Linked DNA regions of Homo sapiens: region 1 is linked to region 2. The links come from fine-mapping of genetic effects on gene expression. Tissue or cell type: whole blood. Region 2 holds a variant in brackets; the other region holds the start of a gene. All regions are shown on one strand. Distances are between the middles of the regions.

Evidence for each region. PIP is the estimated chance that this variant, and not a neighbour inherited with it, causes the effect.
Region 1: RBM23 starts here. The variant in region 2 is fine-mapped to the expression of RBM23 in whole blood (INTERVAL, PIP 0.98).

The regions. Positions count from the first base shown.
Region 1 is chr14:22,917,843-22,920,458 of GRCh38, reverse strand. It overlaps RBM23 (RNA binding motif protein 23), which reads left to right and starts at 1,310. Exons shown (of 14, transcript NM_001077351.2): 1 at 1,310-1,460. It overlaps PRMT5-AS1 (PRMT5 antisense RNA 1), which reads right to left and starts at 1,003. Exons shown (of 2, transcript NR_120600.1): 1 at 1-1,003. RefSeq lists a silencer at 936-1,235 and enhancers at 1,496-1,565, 1,656-1,765, 1,836-2,005, 2,494-2,616.
Region 2 is chr14:23,009,706-23,012,461 of GRCh38, reverse strand. It overlaps C14orf93 (chromosome 14 open reading frame 93), which reads left to right and starts at 2,319. Exons shown (of 7, transcript NM_021944.4): 1 at 2,319-2,361. RefSeq lists a silencer at 1,981-2,330. The variant G/AG (reference allele first, on the strand shown) is at 1,073.

The DNA of each region.
Region 1 (2,616 bases), 92 kb after region 2:
TTAGCCTATCCAAGACCCAAAGGGGCCTAGTTGTATTCCCTACTTAGGAAGCTGAGCAATGACTATTGTAGTCCTGGATATAGGCCTTTCTGACCAGCTACAGTGAGCTCTTGTCCATTAGAACCTACAGTTAGGCTTTTCTCTGGGGAGGAGGCATAGAGTTTGCCACCTTGGAAAAAGATGGAATAGTGAGTGAAGCCAGTTTCTCTTCTGTATTCTTGAGCTACTGCACGGGCAACTGGTTACCTCTCCTTTGTTACCTCTTGGGAAGACTGGAATCCATCCAGGAATCTCCAGCAAGAAGCTACCTGTTTTTTTTGAATAAAACCACAGGGTTACAGTTTGAAGTCCTAAGAGATCATCTAGTCCAATTTTCCATTTTACAGAGGGGGAGTTTGAAATGGGTACAATGATGTGATATTAGTATCCAAGTCAGAATTGGAAGTCAGGTCCTCCGACTCTGGCTCTCCCCATGTTATAACCAGCTACATTTTTGGTAGCTACAGTAGACCACAGAAGTGTCTAGGGGCTCCTGGAGGCCCCTGGAAAGTGAGGGTGGACATCAGTTCCTTCTTTCCGGTTAGAGGACTCAGTACTGCTACATCCAAGGAGTCACCTGAGAAACTTTCAAATTTACCCTTGCAGTGGGAAATGTGGGGGTACTGATTTGAACGGAAGTTATGACCTGTGGGAGCAGGCCATGACGATAGGGCAGAGTGTGGGCCAAGACAAGTCTGTGGCAAGATCTGCTTTTCCCTGGTCCCAAGCACCGAGGTCAGGAGAGGTGGTCGGGAAGGTTGTTTAGGTAGCCGGCTCAGAACGGGGATTTCGAGTTCAGCATCCCCGGACGTTAAACAAACGCCGCTGTTCTCTACAAAGCTTAACCTTAACGACCGACGTGACTCCTTCAGCAAATCCGAGTAGGGACGGCCAAGGATGTAAATTGTGCCTCCTCGTTGGCTCCGCCCATCGCACTGGTCTAGTCTACGCGAGCACCAGGAGTGGGGTTGGTGGCTTCTTCACTCCCGTTTTCAGTCCCGTTTTCCCCGCCCTCCGCAAGTCATTTAACCAATGAGAGAGTGATGGGCGGCTACCAAAGGACGCTTCCATTTTCTGGAGTCTCTGAGGTTAGCCAATCAATGGGAACTCGGTGGTTGCTAAGACGCATTTGAGTTTGCTCCACCCATACTTAGGACTTTAGCCAATGAGAACCTGTACTTTGGACGGTTGCCGCGAAACCAGTGAGGTTATTTCCAAAGCCGGGGAGTCTTGGCGCATGCGCAGATTGGGGAAGGTTCTGGAAGACGGCAGAGCTGCCGCCATTTTGCGGGAAGAGGAGGCTCTGTACCTGCAGTGCTGCTTTTCTTGCCTAGACTCTAGGAACTATCCGAGCTCCACTCCCCACAACATACTCAAAGGAACGGAGAGAACCGGGACCCCCCTGCGGGGACCCGGAACTGGTGAGAAACCCCAAAACCCGGTCCCCACCAGACGTCACCAATGCGTGACGTTGCTGCACGGCGCCTCCCCCCTGACGTCACGGGCAGAAAATGGCGTCACGAAGAGATTCAGGCGAACTTTTAACATTAAAAAAACCTTTGTTTGTTTTGACCTGGAAGTGTTAGCTACTTAAATGTAGCCCACTGCCACGATTTTAGAGTTGGGCACCCTCGTGGCTGTATCTTGCACCGATAAAGATGCGGTTTCTAGAATCCTGTGATTTTTCTTTCCGGGTCTCTGCAGCCGTGACACTTAGGGTCGCCCACACTGGAGAGGGAGCATCGACCCTCCGCGGCCTGAGAGGACACGCATCATCAGTTTCAGCCACTCGCACCACCATTCAGAGAGAGAGAAGGGAATTGAGCTTTCTTCCTCAATCTCTAGTCTGTCGAAGATTCATGTTCACTATGTTGACCTTTATGGGCTTTTCCCATTTAACTTTTTCAAGCACTCATTCCAGTAGGCGTATTATGATGCCACATATGAAGATTGAGCCCTGGGACACTGGCTCCCGCAGAGATTGTGCCAGTTGGTTGCCTATAGGACCTCTTTTTTTTTATTTTTTTAAGGCGGAGTGTCGCTTTGTCACCCAGGCTGGAGTGGAGTGGCGCGATCTCGGCTCACTGCATCCTGTCTCCCGGGTTCTAGCGATTCCCCTGCCTCAGCCTCCCGAGTAGCTGGGATTACAGGCGCCTGCCACAACGCCCGGCTAATTTTTGTATTTTTAATAGAGATGGGGTTTTGCCATGTTAGCCAGGCTGACCTCGAACTCCTGACCTCAGGTGATCCACCCGCCTCGGCCTCCCAAAGTGCTGGGATTACAGGCGTGAGCCACCGCGCCCGGCCTATAGGACCATTTTTTAAAGCTACACAACATGGGGAGGGTGGTCCTTCAAGTAGCTTTTATCGTTCTCATTGTTCCTCTTTTGTTAAGCTGCCTTCAGTTTGTAGGTGTTTGTGCCCAGCTAAGTGATCAGACCCTGGGGATGGCGCTACCATCACCCCTGGGGCTCCAGCTTTTCGTGAATTCTTCCCGAATTGGTCTGACAGTGGTTCTCTCTGCTCCTTTAGCAGTGGGGTCTATCTGTTGGCTTGTGCTATGACGAGGTCTAGGAA
Region 2 (2,756 bases):
AGATGGAGTCTCGCTCTGTCCTCCAGCCTGGAGTGCAGTGGCGCAATCTTGGCTCACTGCAACCTCTGCCTCCTGGGTTCAAGCAATTCTCCTACCTCAGCCTCCCAAGTAGCTGGGACTACAGGTGCGCATTACGATGCCCAGCTAACTTTTTGTATTTTTAGCAGAGACGGGGTTTCACCATGTTGGTCAGTCTGGTCTCGAACTCCTGACCTCGTGATCCGCCTGCCTGGACGACAGAGAAAGACTCTGTCTCGAAAAATAAAAAATAAAAAAAAAAAATAATAATAATAATACCTAAATTGATGCACATAAAGTGTTCAGAACAGTTACTTCCTGCACAATAAGTGTTCACAAATTGCTACTTACTATAGAAGGGAAATTCTTGTGAGATGTGAGTTTCAGAATCTGTGTTTTAGCTAGAAAAGAAATTCACTTATTTGATCATAAATGATTTTTGGCCCGGCATGGTGGCTCACGCCTGTAATCCCAGCACTTTGGGAGGCTGAGGCTGGTGGATCACGAGGTCAAGAGATCCAGACCATCCTGACTAACACGGTGAAACCCCGTCTCTACTAAAAATACAAAAAATTAGCCAGACTTGGTGGCGGGCGCCTGTAGTCCCAGCTACTCGGGAGGCTGGGGCAGGAGAATGGCGTGAACCTGGGAGGTGGAGCTTGCAGTGAGCCGAGATCGGGCCACTGCACTCCAGCCTGGGCGACAGAGCGAGACTCCAGCTCAAAAATAAATATAAATAAATAAATGATTTTTTTGGTCAGTGTTTACTAAATATCTACAATTATGCCAGCTACTGCAGTAAGAATCAAACAGTTCCTGGATGGAAAAACAATTTTAAGATATGATCACTGACCTCAAACAGTTTACTGGAGTGAAATTACTAAAATATGTGAATCAAGGTAGAGTTACGTGCCGCTAACTGGAGTACACATGAAATTCATGTTGATGGGAGCGGAGAGAAGGAAGTAAGCAGTCTGTGCTGAAAGAGAATGGATAAAAATTGACCAGTCAGGGAAGGGGAGACGCATAATTCAGGCCAAAAAAAAAAAAAAAA[G/AG]CCACTTGAGTAAAGGAATAATACAAGATTGATAAGACGAGCGTAGAGGGAACTAAGAACAAATATGTGCCCAGGCGCGGTGGCTCACGCCTGTAATCCCAGCACTTTGGGAGGCCAAGGCGGGAGGATAACTTGAGGTCAAGAGCTCAAAACCAGCCTGGCCAACATGGTGAAACCCCGTCACTACTTAAAAAAAAAAAATAGCCGGGCGTGGTGGCATATATCCGTAATCCCAGCTACTCGGGAGGCTGAGGCAGGAGAATCGCTTGAGCCTCGGAGGTGGGGGTTGCAGTGAGCCGAGATCACATCACTGAAAAAAAAAAAAAAAAGGCAGGGTGGGCACATCACCTCAAGTCAGGAGTTCAGGACCAGCCTGGCCAACATGGCGAAACCCTGTCTCTACCAAAAACAAAAAAAATTAGCTGGGTGCAGTGGCGCACGCCTGTAGTCCCAGCTTCTTGGGAGGCTGAGGCAGGAGAATCGCTTGGGCGGGGTGGGGGTGGGGGTGGGGGTGGGGGCGGAGGGGCGGAGTTTACAGTGAGCGAAGATCATACCACTGCACTCCAGCCTGGGTGACAGAGCGAGACTCTGTCTAAATAAATAAATAAATAACAAATAGGTGGGTGGGACCAGATTATGGGTGGCTTAAAATCCAGGTATACCAGCTGTCTTCCTGGAAATAAAGAGGAGCCACTTTAGTTTTGAGAATGTGGTCTGAGCCAGGTAGATAAACTGGGAGCTCGGGCTGAAGTGTAAGACTTCAGAAAGATGTTCCATACGTGAATGTTCATTTAAACGTGGGGGTGTTAAGCAACACACGTGACCCAGAGACATTTCACCTGGAAACCGGAGTAGGGCCCACGCACCAAGTCCCTGATGTTTAATTGCAGTCTAGAATGTTACTGACTAGTTCACTCAATTTAACAAAGTGTCCGGAGGTCGCTCACTGGATTGTTATGCTGGTGACTGGGCCTTGTTTCACTGAGAAAAAAAGATGGGAAAGGGTGACAGGACGGTGAGAAAGTGAAAGGGAGAGAGGTGGGAAAGGGGTCTGCCAAGGTCCAGGCGAGGTTGGGGGTCGGGGGTCCGGCGGCCCTCAGGGCCCCCCCCGCCCCCAACTCCGGGGTTGGCGCCTCGGGCGCGGCGCGTGTGCTTGCGGGCGGGGCGCCCCGCGGCCGCGGACGGCCAATCCGGGAGGGCGTCCGGGGAGGGGCGGGGCTTGCCGGCTCGGGCTCCGCGAGTCCTCCTTTTTGCACACACACGAATACAAAGAGCCATACGACCTTCGGGTATCCTTTTTCCATTTTTTTTCCTCCTTAATCTTGTGTGTGTTTTCAAATTTTTTAAAAATAGAGATCTGTAGCAGTGTTGGGGTGAGGAAACTGTTGCTAAGGGGAATTTGCTCTTTCCCCCATTTCTTTTTCTGTCTCTCTTCCTCTTTCTTTTTCCTGGTCAAGGTTTTAAATATACCAAGAAGTTGAGAAGCAGGATGGCCGTGTACAACCGTTTCCGGCCAAATTTATAGTTTTTTTTTCTTTTTTTTAAATCACATTTTAAGAACTGGTAGATTTTTGTGGTTGAGGGACTTTAAAAATTTAGCCGCTTGGGAAGTACAGAATTTTTTAAGCGGGCTGAAGGGATAATGTAAATTTCTGCCACAGGCAACATCGAAGGAAGCAGAGAG